Regions from separate parts of the Homo sapiens genome. Here all the other regions are linked to region 1. The links come from fine-mapping of genetic effects on gene expression. A gene starts in region 1. Each other region holds a variant in brackets. All regions are shown on one strand. Distances are between the middles of the regions. Region 1 holds the start of MEAK7 (MTOR associated protein MEAK7). Region 2 has its middle 37 kb from the start of MEAK7. Region 3 has its middle 20 kb from the start of MEAK7. Region 4 overlaps COTL1 (coactosin like F-actin binding protein 1). Region 5 has its middle 19 kb from the start of KCNG4. Region 6 holds the start of ATP2C2-AS1 (ATP2C2 antisense RNA 1).

Evidence for each region.
Region 2: its variant is fine-mapped to the expression of MEAK7 in whole blood (TOPMed, PIP above 0.99).
Region 3: its variant is fine-mapped to the expression of MEAK7 in whole blood (INTERVAL, PIP 0.98).
Region 4: its variant is fine-mapped to the expression of MEAK7 in whole blood (TOPMed, PIP above 0.99). The same link has a PIP of 0.9 or more in neutrophils.
Region 5: its variant is fine-mapped to the expression of MEAK7 in cerebellar hemisphere (GTEx, PIP 0.98).
Region 6: its variant is fine-mapped to the expression of MEAK7 in tibial nerve (GTEx, PIP 0.98).

Annotation. Positions count from the first base shown.
Region 1 is chr16:84,502,400-84,507,470 of GRCh38, reverse strand. It overlaps MEAK7 (MTOR associated protein MEAK7), which reads left to right and starts at 2,812. Exons shown (of 8, transcript NM_020947.4): 1 at 2,812-2,870. LOC124903736 (a long non-coding RNA gene) reads right to left here and starts at 2,669. Exons shown (of 2, transcript XR_007065149.1): 1 at 2,536-2,669; 2 at 1-125. RefSeq lists enhancers at 1-224, 2,352-2,471, 1,834-2,781, 2,902-3,402 and silencers at 497-733, 717-836, 3,022-3,071.
Region 2 is chr16:84,538,763-84,543,833 of GRCh38, reverse strand. No RefSeq gene overlaps it. Among named protein-coding and RNA genes, the nearest start is that of MEAK7, 37 kb to the right of the region's middle. RefSeq lists a silencer at 2,477-2,771. The variant C/T (reference allele first, on the strand shown) is at 2,829.
Region 3 is chr16:84,522,472-84,527,542 of GRCh38, reverse strand. No RefSeq gene overlaps it. Among named protein-coding and RNA genes, the nearest start is that of MEAK7, 20 kb to the right of the region's middle. RefSeq lists enhancers at 2,395-2,979, 2,980-3,563. The variant C/T (reference allele first, on the strand shown) is at 2,241.
Region 4 is chr16:84,564,161-84,569,231 of GRCh38, reverse strand. COTL1 (coactosin like F-actin binding protein 1) reads left to right here. Exons shown (of 4, transcript NM_021149.5): 4 at 2,277-3,636. The coding sequence ends at 2,387. Among named protein-coding and RNA genes, the nearest start is that of COTL1, 51 kb to the left of the region's middle. The variant A/G (reference allele first, on the strand shown) is at 2,243.
Region 5 is chr16:84,256,279-84,261,349 of GRCh38, reverse strand. No RefSeq gene overlaps it. Among named protein-coding and RNA genes, the nearest start is that of KCNG4, 19 kb to the right of the region's middle. The variant C/G (reference allele first, on the strand shown) is at 2,524.
Region 6 is chr16:84,462,336-84,467,406 of GRCh38, reverse strand. It overlaps ATP2C2 (ATPase secretory pathway Ca2+ transporting 2), which reads right to left. Exons shown (of 27, transcript NM_014861.4): 27 at 3,220-3,793. The coding sequence ends at 3,675. It overlaps ATP2C2-AS1 (ATP2C2 antisense RNA 1), which reads left to right and starts at 46. Exons shown (of 3, transcript NR_146503.1): 1 at 46-103; 2 at 4,408-5,071. The variant C/A (reference allele first, on the strand shown) is at 2,474.

The DNA.
Region 1 (5,071 bases):
CCGCCTCACCGAGTGCTGCTGGAGGCTGCTGGTGGTGCCTCCTCAGGGCACGGCTGCTCCTGCGTTTGCTGCTTGGTGGTGGCCTCCTAACAGCCTGGCCCAGAAGGTGGTCCATGCAGCCCAAACTTGGGTTCCAGAGATGGGGAGTCGGGGGCAAGGAGCACATGGGGAAGAGAGAGTGGATGCTCAGCCACAATGGGGGCCCGGTGGTGGCTCAGCCTTTCTGTGGAGGTGTCAAAGCTGGACATGGAAAATTGGGCAGGGATGTCGCTAGCAGAGGCACCGCTGTGGATGGCAGGACCAGCCTGGTCAGGACCTCTGGGAGCCAAGGAGAGTTCAGTGCCCAAAGTCAGCATAAAAAACAGAAGCTGGTGCCCCGGGGGCAGTTGGACAGCCCATGGACATCCCCGGGAGCACCAGCTTGTTGAAATAGCATGATGTATATTTTTAAAAGAGTCTCACTTTATATGCAAAATGTCAAGCAATATAAATCTCTTATTTAAAAAAATTGAGAATACCAGGGGCGGTGGCTCATGCCTGTAATCCCAGCATTTTGGGAGGCCGAGGTGGGTGGATTACCTAAGGTCAGGAGTTCGAGACCAGCCTGGCCAACGTGGTGAAACCCCGTCTCTACTAAAAATATAAAAATTAACTGGGTGTGGTGGCCTATGCCTGTAATCCCAGCTACTCGGGAGGCTGAGGCAGGAGAATTGCTTGAACCTGGGAGGTGGAGGCTGCAGTGAGCCGAGATTGCGCCATTGCACTCCAGCCTGGGCAACAAGAGTGAAACTCCATCAAAAACAGAAACTTTCCAACCAGGCAGGTGGGCAGATTGGAGTGTAGGCTGTTTCTGGAGGGTATGGCCACGAGGTGGCGCCACTTCGGTAGCTCTCAAACGGCGCCGCTCCGCATTTGCTTCTGTGGTTTTCTGGGGGATTTTGTTTCACCGTTTTAATAACAAGATCTCACTTTCCTGCCCAGGCTGGAGTGCAGTGGTGCAATCACGGCTCACTGCAGTCTCGCCCTCTGAGGCTCAAGCGATCCTCCTGCCTCGGCTCCCTGAGTAGCTGGGACTACGGGTGTGCCATACCACGCCCGGCCAAGCTTTTCATTTTTTGTAGAGATGGAGTCTCACTATGTTGCCCAGGCTGACACATCGGCTCCGGTTTGCTCCTGCGGACCCCCCAGTACCTGCACCTGAGAGGCCACCATTGCTGTCCACCCTTGGTGTGCCTCAGCCTACAAAAAACTGTTGCTATGTCAAAAATGCCACTACCTCGGATGGCACTGAAAAAGACACACCTGGTTGATGTGTGCAGGAAGTACAGGGGTGTGAAGGCTGGAAACAGGGTCTAGTCCTTCATGTCTAAAGGCCCGTGTGTCTTGGGCATCAGGAGCCCTGGCTGCAGGTGACAGGCACCTACTCTAAGAAGCCGAGGTGAAGAGCTGGGGCTACTCGTGTCATTGGCATCCACAGCTGGGGGTACCCTGGCTGTAGATGCGTTAGTTTGTGGAGCTGCTTCTCCTGGGACATTGGCCTTGGATCTCAGAGCAATGTCTTGGTGAGGGGCCCTACCTTGTGCACTGTCACCAGCCAGGCCTGCTGCCCTCAGGCAGAAAGCCTTCTATTTTTGTTCCAGCTTAAAGAATAAGAGGTGACCAGCCGGGTGCAGTGGCTAACCCCTACAATTCTAGCACTGTGGGAGGCCGAGGCAGGCAGATCACCTGAGGTCAGGAGTTCGAGACCAACTCAAGCGGACGTTGGCGGGCGAAGTCACGGTTTTCCAGGCTGGAAAACCAGCAGGCCGTGCAGGGGAGAGAACTGGTACCATGGACATGCGGGAGCTGAATCTGCAGGAAGGTGGACCCCAGGGAGGATGCGTGGGGTGGAGAGAGTAGGGAGAAGTCGAGAAACTCCAGGGCAGAAGCCAGAAGGGCCCAGGGAAGACCACCAGGGACAGCGAGCGAGCCAGGGCCAGGAATGGGCGCCGGGGTGCCCAAGAGAGAGGTCTGATGAGAGCACGATCACCAAGCGCCAAATGCTGCCTGCGAGGACCCAAAGCGCACCTCGGATGTAGTGAGCAGGCCCCCGGGACCAGGTTTCGGTGGGTTTGAGAAGGAACGAGCTGAAGAAGTGGGGTGACAGGTTCAGACGTCTTGGAGTGAACGGGAACCGGCTGAAGAGGCGCACGTGGGGTGGAGGGAGTCTGTTTAGCCAGGCTGTGGAGCTGGCGCCTGATGGCTGCCGGGAAGGACCTGGTGCCAGGGAAGAGCGAGGCAGGGGCAGCTGGCAGAGGGAGGCCCGAGGGGAGGCGGACCCGAGGCTCTAGGCCAGGACCAGCAGGCCGGGGAGTCAGGGGAGAGTTGCCTGGGGCCCAGGAGGCTGCACTGCAGAGGCCTCTGCATGGGCTCCACATGGGCCACTCTCCTCCCCCGGGTGTCTTCACCCCCAAGCTCAGCCTCTCCCCCAGGATCTCCCACACCCTGGCTACTCCGCTCCAGCGCCCAGCCCAGACACCCCTTCTCCCCAGGTACCACTGCTGGCCTGGCCTGGCCTGAGTCATTGGCCGCCCTCTCCAGGCGCCTCCTTGGTACGCACGCAGCCGGGCCGGATTCCCGGGCCTGCAGCCGCTCCTCCCGCAGACCGCGGCCCCGCCCCGAGCCGCACCCACCGGGTTCGGCTCACTCCCTGTGAGGCGCGTCACCATTGGCTGACTCCTCTCTTGGGTTCCGCCCCACACCTCCGCTTCCACGATTGGACCAAATGACTGCCCCTCAGCAATGTTGCCTGGCAACAGGGAAGGGGCGGCTCTCGAGAGGAGCCCGTGGGCTGCTGGACCGGACCGGACAGCACCAGGAAGCCCGGCAGGGTAGGTACCTGGGCTGAGGTTCGCAGTGAGCTGACCCAGAGGCGCAGGCCCAGCTGAGTCGGGGGACTGGAGCAGACGGGTCCAGAGTAGGCCTGGGCCCTGCCCCTCCCTGGCCTCCCACGCCTCTTCAGGCCCTCGGGTCGGGGGAGGGAGAGGTGAAGGCTGCGGGGAGGTGAGGGGTGGGGACAGCGGGGCGGGATGGAGGGAGGGTCTCCTGGGGGGGATCAGAATCATCCTGCACCTCCCGCTGTTTATGTGGTCAAGGTAAGAGGGTGGCGAGGTGCTTCCCCCAGGGCCAAGGCCAGCCGTGTTGAAGGGGGATTCAGAGCCTGTGTAGACGCGGAAAGGGAGGGGTGCCTCCACGGAGGAGGCGAGTCTGGGGTAGACACTGAAGTGTGTGTGGAGGGGGTTTTCCTTCTTGTATTCTGACCACACCCATCTGGGCTTTTCCAGGACAGTGAGCTGATAACTGTTCCCAGGCCATGTAGGTGGCCAGCACAGGACAGGTCACCTTCTGGCCCACAGGAACTTCTTGCCCAGGCTCAAGCTGCCCCTTCGCACAAGGGCCTCTGGGCTCTGAGACACAGACAGGACTTCGAAGCCTGTCCAGATGAGGCAGTTGGAATCTCCCCAGCTTGTGGGGGTACGGAGGGACCCTTGTGTGGCTCTAGGGATGCGGGGCCCTTGGAGTAGAGAGTTGGAGCTTGGCAGCCAGGGTGGGAAGCAGCCATGTAACAGCCTGTTGGAGAAGCTCTGAGCAGGAGGTGACTAAGCCATTCCTAGGATACTAGTGGGAACCTTGGGGGCCATCCTGCAGACAATCGGTCCCTGTCCACCCCTCCATCACGGAGGCAGAGCAACCTTCCGTTTCTTCCAAGCAGGGCAGTTTCTCTTGTTCTAAGACAAGATCCCAAGGAGCCATTCTCTGTTGTCTTGGGCCCATTATTCTGTCTCTGACCTCCAGTAAGCAGATCAAATGCCCTGGGTTACCTTATTTAATCTTCTCAACCTTATGTTAAAGAAATTAATTAATGATGCTTATTAAAAGCACATTAATTATTGAAGACCATTGCAATGGGTATAGGGACCACAGCAATGGGATTTTGTAGTAAAGGAGAGAGATTGGGCTCAACTCTGATTATAGCATGGGCAAGTGGGAAGCCAGGAAGCAGGGTGGGGATCAGTGGATGGAAGATGACTGAGGAAACATCAGGGCGCTAGGGTGGATTCTGGGTAAGCTTACCTAGCAGTTTGTTACTGAAGGCAGGCCAGGGTGATCAGACATCACCTAGGGCAAGCTCGTCCAACCCGTGGGCCATATGTGGCCTAAGGCGGCTTTGAATGACATCCAACACAAATTCATAAGCTTTCTTAAAACATGAGATTTTTTTTTTACCATATATGTAGATATATGCACTTATCAGTTATTGTTAGTGGGTTTTATGTGTGGCCCAAGACAGTTCTTCCAGTGTGGCCCAGGGAAACTGAAAGATTGGATATCCCTAACCTAAGCATTAAACCTGGTTAGATAGCAAGTGAACAGATAATGGTGATCAAATATCAAGGATGAGTGGTTTTGTGGGTTTTTTTGTTTGTTTGTTTTTTGTTTTGCTAAAACCAGATTTTACAAAGAGGTACACAGATGGGCCCAGGAGCCTGACTAAAGTCTGGTCAAGCAAAACATCTTGGTCACTTATTATGGGCTGCTGGAACTTTTGTTTGTGTTTTTATGAGACAGAGTCTTGCTCTGTCACCCAGGCTGGAGTGCACTGTTGTGATCTTGGCTCACTGCGACCTCTGCCTCCTGGTTCAAGCGATCTTCCCACCTCAGCCTCCTGAATAGCTGGAACTATAGTCACACGCCACCACACCCGGCTGAGGTTTGTATTTTTGGCAGAGACGAAGTCTCACTATGTTGCCCAGGCTGGTCTCAAACTCCTGGCCTCAAATGATCCTCCCAAAGTTCTGGGATTATAGGCTTGATGATGGAAAGCTTTCAGTCCCTGGCAAGTTTTCTCGGTGTCATGGGACTTTCACAGTACACCTGGGTACATGGGGTGGCCTCTTCTCTGCAAAGCTGTGCATAACACAACCCTACATTGGCCTCGAGACTTCTGTGGGTTCCCTTGTATCAAGTTCCGCTTCCATTTTGTTCCGCTGCCCTACATCCTCAGAAGCCAGGTTTTCTCACCTTCAGCCCT
Region 2 (5,071 bases), 36 kb before region 1:
AAAACAAACCAGAGAGTTAAAGTCAGAAGGCTTGTCCACGGTTCCTTAGGTTTTGTTCCAAAACGCACATCTGGGCTGTGGTCACAGAGTTGCTTATTTCAACCCTGGGATGACCTAGTGGCCCCTTTACCAAAACCACCTTTAGTGACCTCTCATTGGTAGCCTGAAATCAGCCACAATGGAAGTGTTTACACCAGGGAAATTGGAAATCAGTAAAGGCCTTCCTTCCAAGCCATTGTTAAACAGTTACCAGCACACCACTGCATGCCCACAGCTGTTCTAAGAACTCTACATAATTCACTCATTTAATCCTTTCGGCCACCCTGTGATATGTGGTATTATTATTATTCCCATTCTACAGATGGGAAAACTGAGGACCAAGAAGTTTAAGTAACTTGCCCAAAGTCACACAACTGTAGAGGATGCAGGCTTTAAACCTAGACATTCTGGATCCACTGTCTGTGTTGTTGACTGCTGAACTCTATAGCTCACTGAAACCCTGACTTCGTGGACATTATTGCTTAGAGTTATGCTGAGAAAGGCAGAAAAAAAAATCACACAGTAGGTTGACTTAAAAAAATATGGGCTGGGTGCAGTGGCTCACGACTGCAATCCCTGCACTTTTGGAGGCTGAGGCAAGAGGATCACTTGAGCCCGGGAGTTTGAGACAAGCCTGGGCAACATAATGAGACCCCTATCACTGTAAAAAAAAATTTAAAGGCTGGGCGCGGTGGCTCACGCCTGTAATCCCAGCACTTTGGGAGGCCAAGGCGGGCAGATCACCTGAGGTCAGGAGCAGAAGTTGGAGACCAGCCTGGCCGACATGGCAAAGCCCTGTCTCTACTAAAAATACAAAATTAGCTGGGCATGGTGGTGCATGCCTGTAGTCCCAGCTACTCGGGAAGCTGAGGCAGGAGAATCGCCTGAACCCGGGAGGAGGAGATTGCAGTGAGCCAAGATTGCACCATTGCATTCCAGCCTGGGCAACAAAAGCAAAACTCTGTCTCAAAAAAAAAAAAAAAAAAAGATTAAAAATTAGCTGGGCATAGTGGTGCAGGCCTGGAGTCCCAGCTACTCAGGAGGCTGAGGTGGGAGGATGGCTTGAGCCTGGGAAGTTGAGGCTACAGCCCCCACCCTCATCCCGAGCTGACCGCTGCCTGGACCTAACACCTGAGCTTGGCTTTGCTGGTTTGTGTTAATGTTTTACACACAGGGTGGACTTTTTGTCTGGCTGCTTTCCCTCCCCGTCGTGTCTGAACTCCATACAAATTTAGGGTTTAGTTGTAAATCATTCTTTCTCAACTTTTGCACAGTTTTTCATGGTTGGTTGTATATGTTTTGGGGAGACAGAAGACATCAACCAATACATGATTTTCACAAATTTACACCCCTATTTATTCACCCATTCCACTGTGATGAGTATTGGGGTGGTTTCTTATTTGAAGCTATTATGAAGAGAGCTGCTATGAACATTCTAGGACATTCTAGGCTTTTGGTGTGTACATTTCTATTGCGTATATCCTAGGAGTGGACTTGCTGGGTCATAGGAATACAAGCGTCCAGGGAAAGATGGAGTTTTATCTGAAATCTCCTGACTTTACAGTGACAGAGGCTAATGCATATATTTTTTTAAACAACAAAGACTCAGCCAAGCAAAACATTCTTCAGGCAAGTCAGACCTGCTAGTGGCCAATTTACAGCCTTTAGTCTAGATTAGACTTCGCTTTCTCTACTAGCCCAAGATCTGTTTCATTGTTTCATTTTGTTTTTTACATTTTTATAACTGTTTTCATTATAAAAGAACTATAACTGCATTATGAAAAATTCAGAAAATGGAGTAAAGAAAATAAATTCACCAAGAGTTCAGCCCCCTAAAGCAAACACAGTCATAGCTTCGTATATCTTGTTCTAGTGCTTTTTTCCTGTGCATATGTATTTTAAAATAAATTTGCAATATTGCTTCATATAAATTATATAAACTGCCATTTGATGTGATCATTTTTGCATTTGCCTGTTATTACACAGTCGTCATATTCCACTACGGTCGGTTTTCGATTCACTTAATTTTCTGAGTAGAGAAAACAATTCCTGTCTTTCTATTTTAGACTTATTAAATCTATAAATAAAAGGCTGCTGGAAAGAGGGCGTTTTCTGCTATAATAATAAGGCTTTATTCAAGGCATAAGGAATGTGGTTTTAAGAGGATGAAGCTGGACACAGTGGCTCATGCCTGTAATCCCAGCACTTTGGGAGGCCGAGGCAGGCAGATCACTTGAGGTCAGGAGTTCAAGATCAGCCTGGCCAACATGGCAAAAGCCCATCTTACAAAAATTACAAAAATTAGCCAGGTGTGGTGGTGTGCGCCTGTGGTCCCAGCTACTCAGGAGGCTGAGGTGGGAGAATCGCTTGAGCCCAGGAGGCGGAGGTTGCAGCGAGCTGAGATCACACCACTGCACTCCAGCCTCGGCAACGATGAGACCCTGTCTAAAAAAAAAAAAAAAGGATGGAGCCTGCAGCCACACTACTTGGATTCAGAATCCTAACTCTACTCAATCCCCACTGAGTGACCACTCCAGGCCTCGGTTTGCTTCATCTTGAAAATGGAGATGATAAACAGCTCCTGACTCACAGCTTGTCATGAGGATTAAATGAGGTGATACCTGTAATGTGCTCAGAACAGGGGTTGGAATGTTACAAACATATAGCAAGGGTTGGCTATTGATTACTAGGTACAATGGTCACTATTTTGTTCATCATAGAACGAAAGCCCAGCAAGAACCCCTGTGAACATTTGTGGGAATATTCTGCTGGGCTTGTATTAGTGCCTA[C/T]GTAATATGCACATGCAGACACCAAATGTGCAGATTCACACATGTATACTGTTTTGTTATCTGTTTCTTGGCGACTCTAAATTTTTTCTTTTCTTTTCTTTTTTTTTGAGATGGAGTCTTGCTGTGTCACCCAGGCTGGTGTGCAGTAGAGCAATTTCAGCTCACTGCAACCTCCGGCTCCTGGGTTCAAGTGATTCTCCTGCCTCAGCCTCCCAAGTAGCTGGGACTACACCTCAGCCTCCCAAGTAGCTGGGTGCATGCCATGATGCCTGGCTAATTTTTGTATTTTTAGTAGAGACAGGGTTTCGCCTTGTTGGCCAAGCTAGTCTCGAACTCCTGACCTCAGGTTATCTAGCCGCCTCAGCCTGCCAAAGTGCTAGGATTACAGGCGTGAGCCACCATGCCCGGCCTAAATTTTCTTTCTGTGTCATTGTTGGGAGACAGTTCTCCATGGGTCTCTCAGGTTTCTACATGTCTTGCAAGTAGAAGAACTATCTTTACAAGGATGTTTATATAGCAAACAACTTTGTTAGACAGAGACAGTGTGTCCCCTCAGATCAAAGGGCAAATTTGTTTTCTGTCCAATATAGATAGATGTTTGCCCCCAGGGCAAGGATCAGGATTTCTTATAAGAAATTTGGGCTCCCTGAGCTCAGGGATCCTCAGCTGTGAGAAATGTGCTGTGTGCGCAACACCCACCCCTTCCGGGCCCCTTTGCATGGCCCCTGTGGGACTTGGGGACAAGGGAAACCGATGCAAACATAAAGCTCATGCTACTTGCTGTGCTGCGAGTAATAAAGTCACTTGTCTCTGACCCAGGAGGCTCGTGTCTTCTGCCAGCAACCATGGCACTGCAGCAGGCTCACCTGGGGGCTTTCACAGAGGGTCAAATCCCAGCTCATCCATGGGCCTTGAGAATCATGAAACAGTCTTCCCCAGCATCACTTCCAGGTTCTACCAGAGTCCCCTCATTTGGCCCCTCTATCATTCTTTGGGTTAATCTTCCATCTTTGGAAACGTAGCTTGCTTTCCATTTTGTCACTGTTTTAAACAATGCTGTAGTGTGCACTTGTAGCTGAGCTTCGTTCTCATGTGACTACCCCGATACTGTAAATCAGAGATTCTGAGGAGTGTTGGCAGGACCCCTGATGCCAGCAAGTTCAGCCTCTTGATGCCCATCGCACATTGAGGCCTAGTGGGTCCTGAGCCACTGGGAGTTCCCCTCACCCCTCATTCTCCACTGGCCTCTCTCCCTGGGCCTGTAGAATCTTCCCAGCCTCCCTCATCCTCCCGAGTCTCCCTGGGGGGCATTTAACACACTGGACTCTAATTGAGGGGTCCTTTCTCTCCAGATCCTGAGCTCTTTGAGGGCAGGGACTTCCTCATCCTTGTGTCCCCAGGACCTGGCACATTGGGTGCTCATCCAATGTTAACAGAACCTAAACAGAAACCATCAACAGATTCAAAAAGGACATCCAGGCACCGTACGTTAGGGCGTCGAGCCTACTGGTTCACTCTCGTACCTCTGTACTCCAGGAGGTATTCTGAGTGTCGCAGAATCACATCTACTGTCAGGGAGCTGCAGTCAAAGGAAACCAAGGACTGGAAGGAAGAGTTGCACTGAGGAGGGGCAGAGTCAGCTCCTTAACCTCCCTAAGGCTTCTCACAGTGAGCCCTCTAGAAAGGTTTATTTATTTATCTTTTACTTTTACTTTTTGATTTGTATTATTTATTTATTTATTTATTTGAGATGGAGTCTAGCTTTGTTGCCTAGGTTGGAGTGCAGTGGCGTGATGTCGGCTCACTGCAATCTCCACCTCCCAGGTTCAAGTGATTTTCCTGCCTCAGCCTCATGAGTAGCTGGGATTACAGGCATGTGCCACCACACCCGGCTAATTTTTGTATTTTTAGTAGAGATGGGGTTTCATCATGTTAGCCATGCTGGTCTTGAACTCCTGACCTCAGGTGATCCGCCTGCCTTGGCCTCCCAAAGTGCTGGGATTACAGATATGAGCCACCACGCCCGGCCTTATTTTTATTTTTTAAGCCCCCATTCTGAGAAGCAACTTTTATTTTTTATTGAGATACAGTATATACAGAGAAGTGCACACGTCTGAAGTGTACAGCTCCAAGAACACTCACACACTAAGCACAACCATGCAATGGCATTCAGGTCAATAACACACTAGTGTCAGCCCCCAAGCCCCACTTCATGCCCCCTATTGAGTCACCCTCAACAGTAA
Region 3 (5,071 bases), 20 kb before region 1:
AGCATTCATTTTCACGCCTGTGAAATCAGGCGTCGTTCTTCTCCGCAAGAGGCCTCTGAGCATTCAAAGAAATACTGACTCAAAAGCAGCAAGTAGCTCAATCTGAGAGTCTTTTCTCTTCCTTCTAACCACGTCATCCAAGATTCACACGGGCACATCAAACATCCCAGGACTCACCCTGCTTCCGTGAGCGTGGCCGCCTGCCACCATTGGAAAGCCCTCGGAGTCATTAATAACATAGTCTCAAAAATAATAGCCACCGTCTTTTCCTGTTTTCCAGCTTGTGGGCTGACGAGCGGCTGGAATTGTCATCTCCACAGTGGGATTGGCAGAGGGACTGGAAGGACTTTGGGAACTCTAAGTCCTAACAAAGAAAACAGTCCGCCCGGGGCTCTCCGAGGCTGTGGCCTCCACTGTGGGTGTGTGCTGAGGCTTGGACCCGTTTGCCCCTTCCCGAGGCATCACATGACTCTCCTGAGCGGGAGAAAGGTCCCCCTTCCTTGTCGTGTGTGCAGGGGGAGCCCTTGCCTGGTTGTGCTGACCGGGTGGATTTGTGCTTTCTGACGGGGATTTGCACGAAATCTGCTTAGACCGTTAGCCCGGCTGGTGCTGCCAGACAAAAGGCAGCAGCAGAGGCGGGGTCCACGTGGCTGCAGGAAGGAGATGGAAGAGCAGAAGGAAACACCCCTCCTCCAGTCTGGAGCGGAGACACTGCCCTGCACACAGGGCTGCGGTGGGAGGCCTGATCACTTGCGGCTGTTGTGATTTTCAAGGATAGGCTCAGGGAGAAGAGATGGGGTCAGAGAGCCTTCGAGGCAGTTTCTGGAGGCAGGGGCTCTGAAAGCTCCCCTCTTAGGTTCTTCTGAGCAAATGGCCACCCGTTCCCTGGACCTTCATTTCCACAACCAAGGGATGCTTAGTAGTAATGCAGAAAGTGAGTTGTGAGGGTAAAGTATCTTAACCATTACGCTGGTGTCCTTGGGGCAGGGACAAAAATATTAACAAACAGGCCAGCATGGTGGCACACACCTGTAATCCCAACACTTTGGGAGGTAGATGTGGGAGGATCACTTGAGCCCAGTTCAAGACCAGCCTGGGTAACAAAGTGGGACCCTGTTTCTTTCTTTCTTTTTCTTCTTTTTTTTTTTTTTTGACTTGGAGTCTCGCTCTGCTGCCCAGGCTGGAGTGTAGTGGCGCAATCTTGGCTCACTGCAACCTCTGCCTCCCGGGTTCAAGTGATTCTCCTGCTTCAGCCTCCCGAGTAGCTGGGATTATAGGTGCCCGCCACCACACATGGCTAATTTTTTGTAGTTTTTAGTAAAGACAGGGTTTCACCATGTTGGTCAGGCTGGTCTCGAACTTCTGACCTCAGGTGATCCACCACCTTGGCCTCCCAAAGTGCTGGGATTACAGGCCTGAGCTATCACACCTGGCCAGAACCCTGTTTCTAAAAAACGAAACCAAAACAACAACAACAACATTAGCCGTGTGGTGGCGTGCACCTGTAGAACCAACTACCCAGGAGGCTGAGGCAGGAGGATCGCTTGAGCCCAGGAGGTTGAGGCCGCAGTGAGTCGTGATGGTGCTGCCGCACCCCAGCCTGCGTAACAGAGCAAGACCGTGTCTCCAAAAAAAATTAAAAAATTAAAAAATTAAAAGTTAACACGTCTCCATGTCCTCTGAGCTTCCAAGTAGGGCTGGTGAATGGATGAACGGTTTGGCAGGTCTGGGATCCTGGTGGCTCTGATCAGGTAGCAGCTTATGTTGACATCAGGGAGAGTGCCGTGGAAAGATCCACGGAAGAGGAGGTCATGCAGGGGTGAGGAAGAGGTGTTGGAGGCCCACGCTGGGCAGGCTGCTGCTTGGCGTGGGCCTCTGGGGCCACGTGTGAGCACCGAGGACGCTTGTTACATGTCTTTGGAATCCCATTCCTAGATTTGGGGGCAAGCACACATTATGAGTTCTGAGCTAGAAACCACTCTTTGCCAGTTCCAGTCTCATGGGAAACAGATTCGAATCCCGAGTGGGAGTTAGATGTGCCAGCAATGTACTGGATGTAATGCCCATGTGGGTCGAGGAACTGGGGAGAGGAGTGGGTGCTGAAGGGCTTCAGCCGTGGGACGTGTCTGACACTGACAGAGCGGAGGGGGAGGGAGGATGGCAGTTTGGGAGCGGGGAAGAGCCTCAGCCTGCAGAGCAGCAATGAGAAAGTCGGGGAGCCCAGAATAAAGAGGACTGAG[C/T]GGAGGGGGCGGAGTGGCCGGGCTCTAGGAGAGGACTGAGTGGAGGGGGCGGAGTGGCCGGGCTCTAGGAGAGGACTGAGTGGAGGGGGCGGAGTGGCCGGGCTCTAGGAGAGGACTGAGTGGAGGGGGCGGAGTGGCCGGGCTCTAGGAGAGGACTGAGTGGAGGGGGCGGAGTGGCCGGGCTCTAGGAGCCATGCCCTGTCTCACATTGGCTGGGAGCCGGGACACCACCAGATTCTGTCTTGCAGGGAGATCTGAGCCGTGCACCCCCATGGCCACCACAAACCCAAGAACACAGACACAGTAGCCCAAAAAGAGGGATGGATTCTGTTATTGGAGCTGGGGTAAGGTGAGGAGGGGGTCCCAGGCTGAGGGCTGCAGGGGGACCCATAGGATGGAAGCACTTTCAACACTGTTTCAAACAGGCTGCCACATGGGAACCACCTAGACCTGCAGGTTCCTAAAGCTGCCCTTTGGTGCCACAAGGCCCCATGTCTTCCCAAAGCTCCCGCCGGTGTGACAACAGATTATAGTTACATACCAGTGGTTCTTGGTGCTGCTGGTCATTGGAACCCCCGGTGCCTGCACCCCATCTCCCAGAGCTTGCCACTCAGCCGGTCTGGGAGCAGCCCTGGCAGCCGGGCTTGTCTAAGCATCCCACGAGATCCTGGCAGCAGGGCAGCGGGGCTCAGGGCTGCTGGCCACAACAAGAGCAACAGGAGGTCTGATCTTTTGACTCAACTAGCTGTTGGCTGCGGTCGACAGCGTGCGCTATCAAAGTCTGTGCATCCATGTGTGTGTCTCAGCTCAGGCGAGCTCTGAGGCTGCCTGAAGCCTGCTCACCAGGGCCATGGACCCTCCCATTCTGTGGGTCTCATCAACCCAACCCCCAGGTCCCTTAGCGTCAGGTGTTAGAGGTTTCAAAAAGCACAGCCAGATGAACGTTCTTTTTTTTTTTTTTTTTTTTTTTTTTTGAAATGGAGTCTTGCTCTGTTGCCCAGGCTGGAGTGCCATGGCGCAAACTCAGCTCACTGCAAGCTCCACCTCCCGGCTTCACACCATTCTGTCTCAGCCTCCCGAGTAGCTGGGACTACAGGCGGCCGCCACCACGCCCGGCTAATTTTTTTGTACCTTCAGTAGAGACAGGGTTTCACCGTATTAGCCAGGATGGTCTCGATCTCCTGACTTTGTGATCCGCCCGCCTCGGCCTCCCAAAGTGCTGGGATTACAGGCGTGAGCCACCGTGCCCGGCCAAACGTTCTTTTATTCAGGGCCAGATCATTTCCTGGTGGCCTCCCCTGGGTGTTGGTGCCCCAGATTAGTCCGTGAAATCTGCAGGACTGCGGGTAGGGCTGTGTCTGAAGGCCAAAGGATGCTCCCCCCATTCTGTGGGCCATCCGGCTGTGGTGCCCACATGGTATCCTTTCGAGGCGGGAGCTGCTGAGCTCCAGCCCCCTAGCTGCCCCTTTCTGCCCTCTGTTTCCTGGTGAGTGTAAAAAGCTGTCACCGGGGTTGTCAGCCAGTCATGGGAATGCACACAGCCTCCCTGCCAACTGGCAGAGGGCTGAAATCTCTTTAAAGGAGGACACAACCTTTCTTCCTTCCGGAGAAGAAAAGAGACCAAACAGATGTAAAACTGCCTGGAGAACAGTGACTTGAATACTCACAGGTGTGAGCCGCAGAGTAGGCCTGTCATGAGTTGAATGGTGGACATGTCCAGTCCTAAGCCCTGCACCTGTGGCCTTATTTAGACAGAGGGTCTTTGCAGATGAGATCATCCTAGATTAGGGGTGGGTCCTAAATCCAATGACTAGTGTCCTTCTAAGAGGCAGAAGAGGGCTGGGTGCAGTGTCTCACGCCTATAATCCCAGCACTTTGGGAGGCAGAGGCAGGAGGATCACTTGAGCCCAGGAGTTTGAGACCAGCCTGGGCAGCAAAGTGAGACCTTGTCTCTACTAAAAGTGAAAAAAAAAAAAAAAAATTAGCCAGGTGCGTTGGGGCACCTGTGGTCCCAGCTACTCAGAAGGCTGAGGTGGGAGAATCACCTGAGCCCAGGAGGTTGAGGCTTCAGTGAGCTGTGATCGTACCACTGCATTCTAGCCTGGGTGACAGAGTGAGATCCTGTCTCAAAAAAACCCACAAAAACCCAACCAAAACAGAAGAAGCAGAAAAGAAGAAGAGATGGACACAGAGAAGGCCACGTGAAGCTGGAGGCAGCGATTGGAGCAATGTGGCCACAAGCCTGGGACTGCAGGCAACCCCCTGAGGTGAAGCAGCGGAAAGGCTGGTCAGATTCTTCCTCACAGTGCTCAGAAGGAACCAGCCCTGTGGATGCCTCGTTTTGGACTTCTGGCCTCCTGAACTGTGACACAAAAGACTTTGTTGCTTTCAGGCACCCAGTTGGTGATACTTTGTTACAGCAGCTACAGGAAACAAATACAAGATCTATTCCAGAAGAAATCAAGCTCTAGCCCTGGAGCTTGAGCTCCAATACCGGTCCCCGAAGAAGGGGCTAGGCAGATGGAGGGCTGGGAGTGCCCATACCCAAGAGCGCCAAGGGTCCCCTCATCACCTCCAAGCCTGGGTCAGGGACATCCTTGGGCAGCGCCTAGTCAGCTTTAAGGTGCACACGAGTCTCCCAGGATCTTGTTAAAATGCGGATTCCGATTCAGTAGGTCCTGGCGGCCGGAGGCTGCCTTCCTAACAGGCTGTCTAGCGACGCCGGTGCTGCTGGTCCCGGATCACCCTCTGAGCAGTGAGGTCTTAGATTAGTGCTTCTTCCTGGGTGTTTCCTGGTCTACATATATCAATGTCACCCAGATGCTGGTTAA
Region 4 (5,071 bases), 62 kb before region 1:
CTCCTGCCTCAGCCTCCCCAGTAGCTGGGATTGCAGGCGCCCGCCACCACGCCCGGCTGATTTTTGTAGTTTTAGTAGAGATGGGGTTCCGCCATGTTGGCCAGGCTGGTCTCGAACTCCTGACCTCAGGTGATCTGCCTGCCTCGGCCTCCAAAGTGCTGGGATGACGGGCGTGAGCCACCGCACCTGGCCTGAACCATTTTAAAGTGTACAATTCAGTGGCTTTCAGAACATTCACAGTGTTGTGCAAGCCCTACCTCTGTCTGGTTCCAAAACTTTTTCATCACCCCAAAAGGAGATGGTGGCTCTTTCAAGACGCCAGCTTTGGCATCAACTGGACCTTCTGGTTGTCTGACTTCGGACAAGCATTGTAATTTCCAGCCTTTGTTTCCTCACCTTTAAAATGGAAATAATGTTGATCACCTTACGGGCCTTTTTAAAAAGAACTTGATTGAGGTATGATGTATGTACCTCAAAATCAAGTCATCCTAAGTGTACTTTTTCAGTACTTTTTCGTGAATTTGTGGAGTTGTGCACCCATTACCACAATCCCAATTTTAGAACGTCTCTATCATTTCCTGTTCCCATCTCCAGCTCTGTGTAACCACGAGTCTGCTTTCTGTCTGTATGGGTTTGCCTTTTTTAGACATTTATACCAATGGCAGCTGACAGTACATGGTCTTCATGCCTGGCTTCTTTCACTCAGCATCCTGTTTCCGAGGTTCATCCATGTAGTTGCGTGTGGCAGCGCTTCATTCCTCTCTGTGGCTGAGGAATATTCCATTGTGTGGACGGACCGTGTTTTGATAATCCACTCCTCTGTTGATGGACATAGGGGTTGCTTCCACCTTCCATGATTCATATTTACTACTGTGTGTCATTCTCAGTACTGTGGCACTGTGCTGGTACACATAAGTGCTTAATAATTGTGGTTAGCCGGGCGTGGTGGCTCACGCCTGTAGTGCCAACACCTTGGGAGGCCAAGCTGGGCGGATCACTTAAGGCCAGGAGTTTGAGACCAGCCTGGCCAATGTGGCGAAACCCTGCTTCTACTAAAAATACAAAAAATAGCTGGGTGTGGTGGCAGACGCCTGTAGTTCGAGCTACTTGGGAGGCTGAGACATGAGAATGGCTTGAACCCTGGGGGCAGAGGTTGCTGTGAGCCAAGATTGCGCCACTGCACTCCAGCCTGGGCAACAGGCTTTTCTCTCAAGAAAAAGAAAAATGGTGGTCATTGTTTATGTTATTTCCTTATGGGCTTTTTTTTTTAATGTGGATGATTTTCTTACCTTTAGACGTGTTATTTGTGGTTTTGATAGCTTTTTTTTGTCAAGCTGTCCGTCATCGTTCTGAAATTTTGTTTGTTAAAGTCTTATGATCCACATATGGCAGTAACTGTGTATCATCATGGCTTAAGGGTGTCTGATAAGCCAGGTCACCTGGTTCCCTCATTCATGCCACAAGCGTTTACTGAGTGCATCATGGGTGCCTGCGGGTTCTATGGGTGAAACCTGTGTACTGCAAGAGGAAAGACTGACTGCATCCATTTTGCTGAGCCCTGTAGCCCCACAGCCTGGCGTGGTATTTGTTGAAAGAAGGCAGAGCCTCTACCCTCGTGTAACTCAGTGCGGGTGGAGAGCCCATGGCAGACCCAGGACTGGAGGCTCCTGCGTCATTAGGAACATTGGTGGCTGAAGCTTGCTTGTCCCAGCTGGCGAGAGCCAATTACGCCTGTCTCCTTCCACCTCCACGTATGGTGACATCACTTTGATAGCTTGACGTCAGCCACTGGGGGACTATTTACATCATGGATATGGGCAAAAGACACCAATCTGAGCTTTTGTCCTTTTCTTTTTTTTGGAGTGCCTGCACACCCGTGAGCCTTTCCAACCTCGTAACCTATTATTTTCCTGACGAGATAGTTTTTTACAGATGAGAAAGTTGAGGCACAGAGAATTGAAGGGACTTGGCCAAGGTAACAGCCCAAATTCAAGCCCCAGCTTCCTCGGGCCATCCCCACGGACATGGGAAGACGCAGCATCAGATCTGCCCCACTCCCTCCTCCCAGTCAGGTTTTTTCTGCCAGATGACTCTGCTGTTCAATTTCCATTGACTCTGCTGCTGAATTTCCATTGACTGACTCTGCTGCTGAATTTCCATTTCCATCTCTCATCAGGGTTTTCAGTGCTTTGCTTCCCAGTGTGTTGCCTGAGCCACCCTCACATCCTGTGCCTTCCTTCTT[A/G]ATAGGAACGCTGTGTTTTCCTTTGTTCTTGCAGAATTTCGCTAAGGAGTTTGTGATCAGTGATCGGAAGGAGCTGGAGGAAGATTTCATCAAGAGCGAGCTGAAGAAGGCGGGGGGAGCCAATTACGACGCCCAGACGGAGTAACCCCAGCCCCCGCCACACCACCCCTTGCCAAAGTCATCTGCCTGCTCCCCGGGGGAGAGGACCGCCGGCCTCAGCTACTAGCCCACCAGCCCACCAGGGAGAAAAGAAGCCATGAGAGGCAGCGCCCGCCACCCTGTGTCCACAGCCCCCACCTTCCCGCTTCCCTTAGAACCCTGCCGTGTCCTATCTCATGACGCTCATGGAACCTCTTTCTTTGATCTTCTTTTTCTTTTCTCCCCCTCTTTTTTGTTCTAAAGAAAAGTCATTTTGATGCAAGGTCCTGCCTGCCATCAGATCCGAGGTGCCTCCTGCAGTGACCCCTTTTCCTGGCATTTCTCTTCCACGCGACGAGGTCTGCCTAGTGAGATCTGCATGACCTCACGTTGCTTTCCAGAGCCCGGGCCTATTTTGCCATCTCAGTTTTCCTGGACCCTGCTTCCTGTGTACCACTGAGGGGCAGCTGGGCCAGGAGCTGTGCCCGGTGCCTGCAGCCTTCATAAGCACACACGTCCATTCCCTACTAAGGCCCAGACCTCCTGGTATCTGCCCCGGGCTCCCTCATCCCACCTCCATCCGGAGTTGCCTAAGATGCATGTCCAGCATAGGCAGGATTGCTCGGTGGTGAGAAGGTTAGGTCCGGCTCAGACTGAATAAGAAGAGATAAAATTTGCCTTAAAACTTACCTGGCAGTGGCTTTGCTGCACGGTCTGAAACCACCTGTTCCCACCCTCTTGACCGAAATTTCCTTGTGACACAGAGAAGGGCAAAGGTCTGAGCCCAGAGTTGACGGAGGGAGTATTTCAGGGTTCACTTCAGGGGCTCCCAAAGCGACAAGATCGTTAGGGAGAGAGGCCCAGGGTGGGGACTGGGAATTTAAGGAGAGCTGGGAACGGATCCCTTAGGTTCAGGAAGCTTCTGTGTAAGCTGCGAGGATGGCTTGGGCCGAAGGGTTGCTCTGCCCGCCGCGCTAGCTGTGAGCTGAGCAAAGCCCTGGGCTCACAGCACCCCAAAAGCCTGTGGCTTCAGTCCTGCGTCTGCACCACACATTCAAAAGGATCGTTTTGTTTTGTTTTTAAAGAAAGGTGAGATTGGCTTGGTTCTTCATGAGCACATTTGATATAGCTCTTTTTCTGTTTTTCCTTGCTCATTTCGTTTTGGGGAAGAAATCTGTACTGTATTGGGATTGTAAAGAACATCTCTGCACTCAGACAGTTTACAGAAATAAATGTTTTTTTTGTTTTTCAGAAAACAGTTTGGTTTCTGATTTGTCCTACAAAGTTCTTTTTTTTTTTTTGCTGTAATAACAGAGGCAGTCATCATCGCCTTCAGATTTAATAGGTGTTTGCGGAGCTGCTGAGGCGGGGCACATTCACATTCAATTGCTTATTTAATTCTTAGCAACCATAAGAAACAGGTGCTGCTTTTGTCCCCATTTCCTGAAATCTGAGGCTCAGAGGGATTCATTCACCCGAGGTCACCCAGATAGAAAGTGGCAGAGCTGGGATTTTTTTTTTTTTTTTTTTTGGTGACAGAGTCTCACTCTGTGGCCCAGGCTGGAGTGCAGTGGGGAGATCTCAGCTCACTGCAACCTCCATCTCCCAGATTCAAGAGATTCTCCTGCTTCAGCCTCCATAGTAGCTGGGATTACAGGTACCCGTCACCATGCCTGGCTAATTATTGTATTTTTAGTAGAGATGGAGTTTCGCCATGTTGGCCAGGCTGGTCTCGAGCTCCTGACCTCAGGTGATCTGCCCGTCTTGGCCTCCCAAAGTGCTGGGATTACAGGCGTGAGCCACCACACCCGGCCAGAGCTGGGATTTGAACTGAGATCTCTCAAAGTCCCTGGTGCTGTGGCTTGTGAGGGGAGCGGGGAGGCCACACATTTGGGATAGCGATGGGACCACAGGTAGTGATTCTTTTTGAGTGGCCAGAACTCCCCTGTCTGCCTGTTTAGGAAAAGCCAAGAGAAAGCATCTTCCTCGTTGGCCATGACATCCTTTCTGAGGTTATCCTACAGCTGAGAAACTGGACTTCCAGCACACCAGACCCTGTGGGAGCCCAGAATCAGGGCAGAGGAGTTTCAGACACAGACAGCGGGGCTTGGAGGAGCTGAGTGTGGGGCAGGGAGAGTGCGGAGAGAGGGCAGAAGCCGAAATCAGGGCAGGAAGGAATCCTACAAGGTATGGGCAAGGCCCTGATCATGCTGCCCAGGGTGGCAGGGGGCCATAGGTCACCACCCTCCCCAGCCCCAGCCCGCCCCAGCCACGTCTGGGTTCTAATTTCTGCTCATCTGTTCACAGCTGTGTGGATTTAGGCAATTTAGTTAACCTCTCAGCCTCGGTTTCCTCATCTGCAAAATAGACAACATTGCCTACGTGTAGAAAGGCTTAAGGAGCAGCGAGGATTGTGCAGGCAAAGGGCGCCTGTCAGGGTGCAGTGTTCTTATCTCACGCCTGCCACTGGTCTTGTTAGCTCTGTGGGCTTCCGTCTTTTCCTATACCCAGAGCTGAGGGAGCTAAACTAGGTCCGTTCCCAGTGCACGGGTTTTAGCTCCGTTCAGAACATGGGCTCAGTAGGTGCATGACTTCATGTCACTCATGCACTGCGTCCCGCAAGCCTTCCATCCTCTCCTGGAATCTCCTGGTCGGCCAAGCCCTCCTCCAGGCCCACTGCCCACCCCACTC
Region 5 (5,071 bases), 250 kb after region 1:
ATTCGGACCTCCAGGTTTTTCATCTAGGTTTAGTCTATCTCAAGTTCAAATGCATGTCCTTAAATAATTAATTTCTCTTCATATTCTAATCTTGAAAGCCTGAATGCCTACAATCTTAGTGAGGCGGTGCAACCAAAAGCAATTAAATTCCTATGAGAGACAAACAGTGGCTGGTGGTTATGCGCTCACAGCTTGGAAAATAGAATTGGAAGGTGTCGAATGGGCTGCTGCCTCTCTGAAAAGGAGTTCCACATGACACAGGGAGGACAGGCTAGACGCTGGGGGTCCCGGAGTCGAGGGATGCGAGTGTGGCCCCTTTGCATTACGAGCTGCCGGAGCCAGAGCTCAGAACTTGCTTGGACGCGGTCTGCAAGGGGCTGGGCGTGGGGCTGAACGGCTTCTCTTCCTCTCCTGCAGCAGAGCCACAGCACATGCACACCTTACCACAAAGCTCCCGTCTTCACCACTCGCATTCCTGGCCACCAGAGAGGGTCCTGCCCAAGGGCACCCTGCAACATCGTCATGCTTCATCGTTGCAAGGGCCACAAGATGCACCAGGGCTGAGATGGCAACCAGGAGCAAAGGAGTGCCTGGTGAGGTGTACTCTGACATGGACACAAAGCTGATAAAAGACTGCCTGGTATGCCAGAGAGAGCAGGATCCCTGGAAGAGATGGCCATCTGGACTTCCCAGGACCACAGGTATGCTTAGTTCCATACTTTGAGCATACACTGGACATAGGGGTCTTTTGAATCTACCAGAGCTGTGTTTTCTGCCATGATCATAAAAGACCAGTTCCCAGGATGTACCAGAAAACTCCCGTGGACAGGTGGCATCACTTCTGCCACCTTCTTAGTCACATGGTATAAGCCAGTTAGGAAACACAAATCATCAGGCACCTCTGCACCTGTCAGCAGGCCACCATCCTCTCCTTTCCTTATTAAAAAAAATAAATTTGGCCAGGTGCAGTGGCTCACGCCTGTAATACCAGCACTTTGGGAGGCCGAGGCGGGCAGATCACCTGAGGTCAGGAGTTCAAGACCATCCGGGGCAACATGGTGAAACCGTGTCTCTCTACTAAAAATACAAAAATTAGCTGGGTGGGGTGGCAGGTTCCTGTAGTCCCAGCTACTCAAGAGGCTAAGGCAGGAGAATCGCTTGAACTGGTGAGGCAGAGGTTGCGGTGAGCCGAGATCACACCACTGCACTCCAGCCTGTGTGACAGAGTGAGACTGCGTCTCAAAAAAAAAAAAAAAAGAGAGAGAAAAATTCACATACAAAAAAATGAAAAAAACAAATAATAAATTCACCTTTAAATCACAAAAATATACTTGCATTTTAATTTTGCTAGGTTTATAAAGAGGGAGCAGTCCAGTAGAGTATTTAAGAGTGTGGACTTAGAATGCCGGTGCTCAAATCTCACTCACATTCTCCTCACTGCTGTGTGACCTTGGACAAGTTGCTTGACCTCTCTGAGCTTCTGTTTTCTCATCTGTAAAAAGATACTATAAAGCGTCTCTATCTCAAAGTTGCTGGGAGGGCTCCCTGAGGTTAAGATGGAAAGGATGCCATCAGCTCTCAACCATTTACTACTCTATGGGTCTGGAAATATGCATGACAAGATGGAAACAGGGATTGTTTGAGATAAGCGTGTGTATTCGAGTATCTTCTGTAGACATAAATTTTGTACAAATATTCAAACCATTGGTTATGGACTGAATGCTTGTATTTCTCCCCATCTTCATTTATATGTTCTAACCCTAACCCCCAGTTGGGTGGTAGTAGGATGAAGGGTTTTGGGGAGGTAATGAGGTCAGAGGGATGGAACACTCATGAAAGGGATTAGTGCCCTCATAAAAGGGACCCCAGAGAGCCCTCTTGCCCTCTTCCCTCAGGTGAGGTTGAAACACGAAGTTGGCAGTCTGTTGCCTGAAAGCTGGCCTTCACCGGAACCCAACCACGGTGGCGGGTTCCCTGATCTCAGACTTCCAGCCTCTCTAAAACCATGAGAAATACGTTTCTGTTGTTTATAAGCTACCCAGTCTGTGGTACTCTGTTACAGCAGCTCAAATTATCTAAGACAACACCACGTGCTCATGCAGTGGGTGCACAGACCGGAGGAGGGAAGATGGGGCGACAGAGCGAAACACTCCACTCCGTTTTCATTGTCGTAGTATTTTTGGAGAGCCGGCATTTGGATCTACACATACACATATAAGAACATTGAGAAAATATGGAAGTTATCTGGAAGAAAAATAAATCTTGTTTTCTATAACCTACCACCCTATTCCCAAGAAAGAGATGGTGGGTCAGTAATAAATGCTCTCATTTTTAGCTAGGCAAGCCCTACCTGGAATGTAAAAAAAATAAACAAAAAGAGTCCTTTCTTTTGGATTTTAGTCATAGTCTCCAATCTAGTGCCCAGGGGTTTGGAGGGTGTGGGGGTCTAGAAAGTTCCGTCATTCAACTCTTCTGAAACTGTCAAGGTCCTTCCCCTGAAAGCTCTCAGTTCTGTGTCACAAG[C/G]CACCATGACTTCTCCCTTTCAGACCCCCTCTCTCTTCTCCTCTTCAAGGACCCTTGACCTCCTTCCCTACCCCAAGGGTTCTCCATTTCTCAGTCCTTCTGGGTCTGTGTGGACCAAAGGGAGGGGCTTCCCATCTGTAGGTGTGTCCGAGTTGGTTCCTTCTGGTGGGTTCGTGGTCTCACTGACGTCAAGAATGAAATCGCGGACCTTCGCGGTGAGTATTATAGCTCTTAAAGGTGGCACGGACCCAGAGTGAACAGCAGCAGGATTTATTGTTAAGAGGGAAAGAACAAAGCAAGACGACCCAAGCGGGTTGCCGTTCCTGGCTGGGGGAGGCCAGCTCTTATTCCCTTATTTGTCCCCACCCATGTCCCACTGATTGGTCCATTTTACAGAGTGCTGATTGGTCCATTTTACAGGGTGTTGATTGGTCCATTTTACAGGGTGCTGATTGGTCCATTTTACAAACCTCTAGCTAGCTACAGAGCGCAGATTGGTGTGTTTTTACAGAGCACTGATTGGTGCATTTTACAAACTCTTGTAAGACAGAAAAGTTCTCCAAGTCTCCAATCGACCCAGGAAGTCCAGCTGGCTTCCCCTCTCACAGGGAGTTCACCAACACCACCTTCCAACCGCATTACTGCTAGATGGGGCTCCTCTTAACCCAGCTCTTGGTATTACATTGCTAAAAGAATTTCTATCTCTTCCAGGCCAAGCACAGTGGCTCATGACTATAATCCCAGAACTTTGGAAGGCTGAGGTGGGTAGATCACTTGGGGCCAGGAATCTGACACCAGCCTGGCCAACATGCTGAAACCCCATCTCTACCAAAAAATACAAAAATTAGCCAGGCGTGATGGTGGGCACCTGTAGTCCCAGCTACTAGGAGGCTGAGGCACGAGAATCTCTTGAACTCGGGAGGCAGAGGGTACAGTGAGCCAAGATCGCATCACTGCACTCCAGCCTGGGCGACAGAGTGAGACACTGTCTAAAAAAAAAAAAAAAAAAAAAATTTCTATATCTTCCAGCATTTTGTCAAATTAGCAAATATTCTCTTTTTGGAACACGCCAGGATCCTGTGGAAGGGAGGAGGAAAAAACAACACATTCCATAACATTTCTTTTTACATAATTAACCTAGAAATACATTTTTGAATGCCTACTGCACACATTCAGGGAATGTGTTGTGTTGTGCTAGCTACAAACATTTTCAAACATTTAAAAAATTACGATCTAATGAGAGCCAAGAGCGTGCATATGGTTTTCTAACCTAGAGAGCGGGGGAGACTCCCTGAGGGAGAGACAGTGAAGCTGCACACGGGAGGATGAGTAGGAACTGGGGAAGGTGGAGGGTGGGAAGGAAATGACGTTCCAAGCAGTGGGAACAGCATGAGCAGAGATCCACGGGGGGAAAAAGGTGATGCAGTCTAGCAGAACACTCCACTTTGTCTTCTCGGGAGCTCATTTTGATAGTGTTTTGTGAGAGCCAGCATTTGGATTTATACGTATACGTAGTTTTTCAACCCAAACAAGATTACACAACATTCTGTGCTTGCTTTTTTTGGTCAATAAATTTCATCTTCTCATTCCAGTAAGATTTCACCTCATCTAATACCCAGACCAAATTCAAATGATCTCAATTTACCCAAAAATGTCTCTCATGGCCAATTTGTCTCAACTGGTATTTCATTATCGAGCAGGCAATTGATAGCTCACAAGAAGATCCAAGACTCAAGACCTTCAGGCAGCCTAGGACAGTGGAAAGAGATCTACCCATTCGAACGTCTGTTCATTCATCCATCTATCCGTCCATCCATCCATCCATCATCCATCCATCCGTTCATCGTCTGTCTATTCATCCATCAATCCATTAACCATCCGTCCATCTATCTGTTCATCATCCATCCATCCCTTCATCACTTATTGTATGTTCCTTCCATGCTAGCTCTTACACCAGGTGTATAACTGACAAACTTCCAGCTCTGGCTTAACCCTAACTCCTTAGATCCAGGCCAGCCCTGTTCCCACAGCATAACACTGCTGGAGGGTCTCAGTCTCCTAGTTTTACTGGGATAAGGAGACCGTAACCCCGACCTCTCCACCACTTTTTGCTCATTCAGACTAAATATACAGTGGATAGTCTTGTCTGTCCTTCCTATTTACTTAGCTAGCAAAAGTGTTATGTGCAAAAGCCTAAATTTTTGCTGACAGCAAAACAAATTTTTAAAAATCCTTTTAGAATAAGAAATATGTTTGTGTTCAGGCAAAGAACAAAACTTCTGCACTTAAAAAAAATTAGGTCAATTATTCTATTGCTTTTAGCTTCTCAATCTTGCCTGATTAAATACTTACTCTAGAAAAATGAGGATCCACGGGAGGACAGCAGACTTTCCTGGTGACCTTCTTGCTCCCCTCTAAGGAAAATCACTGCCCTAGATTTTCAAAATCTTCATAAAAGCCGAGTATGTCTCGAGAAAATAGCTCTTAAAAGGTGTGAAAGCAAATTATGAGATATTTCCAGCAATAAAACCGAGTTGGTGTTTCTGGT
Region 6 (5,071 bases), 40 kb after region 1:
CCAACCTGAAGGTGGTTGTGGGAAACTCTTGGACCTGCAGTCAGTATCAGAAGGCCTGGGCAGACTTGGCCAGCCACCTGGAGCACTGTGCCCTTAAACTCAGGTTTGCCTAACATCAGATACTATGTAAAAACCAGTGAAATTGAAATAGGTCTGCTGATAACAATATCATACCAAGCTTGTTAGAACAAGTTTATCTGTGTCTTAAAAAAAAACAAAAACAAAAAAACCCTGGGATTTTGATGGTAATTGTGTTAAACCTAATACAACAATCTCGGGAGAATTGATACTTTTTTTTGAGACAGACAAATAGTATTCAATTTTAAATTTCAGTTTCCAGTTGTTCATTGCTAATATATAGAAATACGACTGCTTTTTGTGTGTTAACCTTGTATCTTGTGGCTTTACTAAACTCGTTGATTCTACGAGGGTTTTTCTTTTTTAAAAAGATTTGTTGGGATTTTCTGTGTGGACAATTACGTTATCTGTGATTTTCTCCTTTCCAGGCTCTTTGCTAATGCCTTTTAACTTTTCTTGCCATATTACACTGGCTAGGACTTCTAATACTGTGCTGAATAGGAGTGGTGAGGCTGGTCACCCTTGGACCTTATCCTGTGGGGAAAGAATTCAGTTTTTCATCATTAAGTATGATGTTAGCTATAGGTTTTTTGTAGATGTTCTTTATCAGGTTGAAGAAGTTTCCTTCAATTCCTAGTTTGAGAGTTTTTATTACAAATGGAGATTGAATTTTATCAAATGCCTTTTCTGCATTAATTGATATAACCATGTGTTTTTCCTTCTTCAGACTATTAATATAGTGAGTTATATTGGTTTTTGAATGTTGAACTTTTCAGTTATATTGGTTTTGAATGTTGAACTTTGGAATGCTTGAATTCCATTCCTCAATTAACCCCACTTCGTCCTGGTGTCTTATATTCTTCGTACCTGGCTAGATCTGATTTCCTCATATTTTGTTGAGGATTTTCGTGCATATATTCATAAGGGATGTTGGTCTCTAGTATTTTTCTCTAGTTTTGGTATCAGAGTGATTGTTGACCTTATAAAATGAGAAGTGCTCGGTCCCCTTTTATTTTTGGAATTCAGTGTATCGAATTGCCATTTCTTTACAAGTTTAGTAAAATTCACCAGTGAAATCATCTGGCTTCAGAAACTGCCTTTTTTGGAAGGGTTTCAACTTCAGCTTATCTATTTAATCTTCAGTGAGTTTTGGTAGTTTTTGGTTTTCAAGCAATTGGTTTATTTCATCCAATTGATTGAATTTAGGTACATAAAGATGTACATAGTATTATTTATTATTATTGTTGGAATATCTTGAAGGGTTTGTGGTGATATACTTTTTCATTCCTGACATTGGTCATTTCTCTTCCCTTTTTTCTTTGATAAGCTTATTGCAAGACTGATAGTTTTATTGATCTCTTCGAAAAACTAGGTTTTGATTGATTTTCCTCTATTTTTGCTTTTTCGTTTGATTTCTGCTCTTTATTTTGGTGACTGTTTCTATGCTACTCGTGAATGGGGTGTTCTACAAGTGTAAATCAAGCTAAGTTGCTTAATGGTGGTGTTCAAGTCTACTGTGTCCTTAATGAAAAGAAGGTCTTAGTTTTAATGTAGTCTAATTTATATTTTATTGTTAGCATTTTGTGTCTTACTACAGTTTTATCCCTAAAGTTTACATAAGCAAGAGTTCAGAGTAATCGACCCTGGTATTTTGATTACTTAATTTTAAATGGGAAGTAAATGTCTCGGGCCAGCAGTGTGCCCAAGGATCCTGAAAAGTAGAGCAAGAATTGTCCCTGACTCAGGGGGAGGCACTCCTTAGCAGACTGTGGAAGTGGCACACTTCAGCCTTGACCTCTTAGTGGTTCCAGGGGTTGGCAGCTTCTAGGAAGACAGCCCCACAGCTCAAAAGGTTTCTTCTCCAGCCAGCCCTGTGTCTGTGTCTCACTAGGAATGGCCCATCGCTGCATCTCCTCCTGTGGCCCTGGTGTCACAGGTTGTAGCCAGAGAGGGGCTTCTTCCCAGGCTGTGAATCCTACTATGGAGGACTTTGGACTCTGCCTGGAACCCTGGCAGGGGTCCACTCTGACCTTCCTTATCTTCGTCTGACCCAGCTGTTACCACCCCTGGTAGCCCTTTTCATAGCTACCGTGGCTGGGTGCAACGGGTACTTTTATCTGACAACTTGGCCAGGCCAAGTTGATTTTCGTCAAACAAACACTGGTCTAGATGGCGCTGTGTAACTAACATGTAAGCCCGTAGACTTGAAGTAAAACAAACAGTTTATCCTTCATAACGTGAGTGGGCCTCATCCGATCAGTTGAGGACTATAAGAGGAAAAGGCTGAACTCCCTTGAGGAGGAGGAAATTCTGCCTCCAGCCTGCATCCCCAGCTCTTCCCTGGGTCTCCAGGATGCTGGCCTGCCCTCAAGATGTTAGACTTGCCAGCCCCCAA[C/A]ATCCTATGAGCCAGTTCCTTAAAACAAATCTCTGCATCTCCCTCCATCCTGTTGGTTCTGTTTCTCTAGTGAGGCCTGACTAGTAAATGGGGGGTTCTAGCTCTGGCCTTATTTCCTGAGAGATGGGGACGGAGTTCCCCTTCTGGTTCCCTTTGGTGGTTCTGGCGTGGCTTCAGGCAGAAGAACAGCATGGAGACCTCTCTCCTCTGCCATCTGTCACGTGGAAGAGCAGATCGGTTTTTGGAAGTCTTTGGGGCAGTGGGAAATCAAGCTTGTCTGCAGGCAGCAGGAGATACTACAGTTCCTGGTTCCGGAGAGAAGGGCCACTTTCTGAGAGAGACTCTTGCTTTGTTGCCCATGCTGCAGTGCAGTGGTACAATCTCCACCTCCTGGACTCAAGCCATTCTCCTGCCTCAGCCTCCCGAGTAGCTGGGATTAACAGGTGTGCATCATCACGCCTGGCAACTGTTTTTTTTTTTTTTTTTAAACTTTTAGTAGAGACAGACAGGGTTTTGCTGTGTTGGCCAGGCTGGCCTCAAGTGATCTGCCTGCCTTGGCCTTGCAAAGTGCTGGGATTACAGGCGTGAGCCACCATGCCCAGCCCTACTCTTTATGTCCAAAAGCCGAGGCCTTCCTGTAGGCCATTCATGATGGATTGCTGCTCACCCCACGTGGCCATTAACACATGGCTGTGGGTTTCCAACCTGGCCCCTTGTATGAAAAACCCTAGGTAAACACATCAAAATAATTATCCCCCGGCATAGCACTTTATTTAAAAGTCCCTCATTTTATGATGAGGAAATGGGGCCTCCAGGAGGGCAATGGGCAGAGTGTGACCATCCTACCCACTGCCTCTCAGGAGCCCCTTGTATCTGCCACGAGTGGCCTGCCTCACTGCAAGCTGTGGCACAGATACGTAGTTAGACATGGTTAATAAAAATCATTGTGATTTAATAAACAGTGTGGTGTTTCTGTACAGGCCCCTCCCTGTCTGTCCCACAGCCAGCGGGAACGCTGGATGGATGTGGGCCTGGGTCCCTGGAGCCCACGAGGTTCCTGCAGCTTTCCTAAGAGGAAAAACTGATCCGGTGATGGAAGGCTGCGGCCTCCTAAAAGTCTCCCCTGACGAGGAGACACGGCAGGGGCCACAGTCACAACCAGATCGAGATGATTAGGGAAGGTGCCGCGGAGTGCGGTCCACTACACATCTTCAGGGTGCATCTGGACTCTCTTGGGGCTGCAACAGTATTTTTCACATAGTTTGAGGAGCTCTGACAAAATGAAGACGGATGAGGCCAATCCAGTTAAAAACAGCAAATCTGCCAAGGGAGAAAACAGAAAAGATTCAGGACGGGCTGCAGCTCTGTTGCGCCGGCAGGAAGCGCCTTCCCTGCCAGTCCTCCTGATAAAGTGAGAGGTGCGGAGGACCAGCCCTTTTCATTCCCCTGAAGGCAGGGAGATCTTCCTAACCCAGAATCCAAAATGCTGCAGTTCCAGAAGGGCCTGCCTGTGGTTCCAGGCAAACACCAGGCAGCTCCAGAGCACAGGGTGGGTCTGGCAGGCAGCTGGGAGCATGTTATGGACTCGGGCTGGAAGGGGAATGAGTTTCCTTTCCCTACAGCAGCTGTCCCAGTGCCCTGCTGCTTGCAAATGTCCTGAGTGACCAGTCTGGGCTCCCTGTCCAGTGCACCCCGACATGTTCCCTGGGATGAATTCCCAGCGACATGTTCCCTGGGATGAATTCCCAGCGTCTCCCTCTGCTCCTGTCACATGCTGTTTTGAGGAACCATCCCTGGCTCCCTGTTGATGATTCCTGATGTACGGGCTGCCCAAGCACAACCCCTTCAGGCGTGGGAAGCCGACTTCCTTCCCGGCGGGTGGAAACAGCCAGTGAGCAGAGTGTTTTGGGGGGTCCTCTTGTCTGTTCCTACAGGGCATTCACTGGTGACCCACACTGACACTGCTTTTTGGAGGACAAGGCAGAGTTGACCATCCCAGTCTTGCCTGGAGGTCATAGGACCGTTGTCACTGCAGCCTCAGGTCTGATGCATAATCCCATGACCCTCCAGATCTGAGCCATGACCCACTCTGGGCCCTGCCGGCGGGGAGGCGGTGGGCCCATGGGGGCTGCCTCACTGGCCTCCCTCGTCCTCTATTCCGGGTTGGGGTTGGCTCTCAGCACACTGGGGAAAAGGGTGGGGTCGATGACTTGTCCCTGGCTCCCTCCCCTTGCCCCATGCCTGCCATAACCGCAGCTTCAGAGAAAGGTGCCACACTCGCTTGGCTGACAATGTCGGGGAGTCCCCTGGGCTCCACACCAGGGCGTGTGCCCTTGGAAAACCACGGTGACTGAATCATGTCCCTTTCAGCCAAAACTGGAAGACAGCCCAGCTCCCTGCCTTCAGGTGACCAGATCTCTAAGTCACATTACTGGCCCCAGGGTCAAGTCCAGGCTCCCCAGCTGGGGTACCTCCCAGGCTGAGTACAGGCCTTGCTCCCTCCTTCCTCCCTGCACGTGCTCTGAGCCTCCAGCCCGACGCCTGGGATGCCGGTGCCCCTTGGGCCCCAGACCCTACTACTCTTGAGTGACAGGCCTC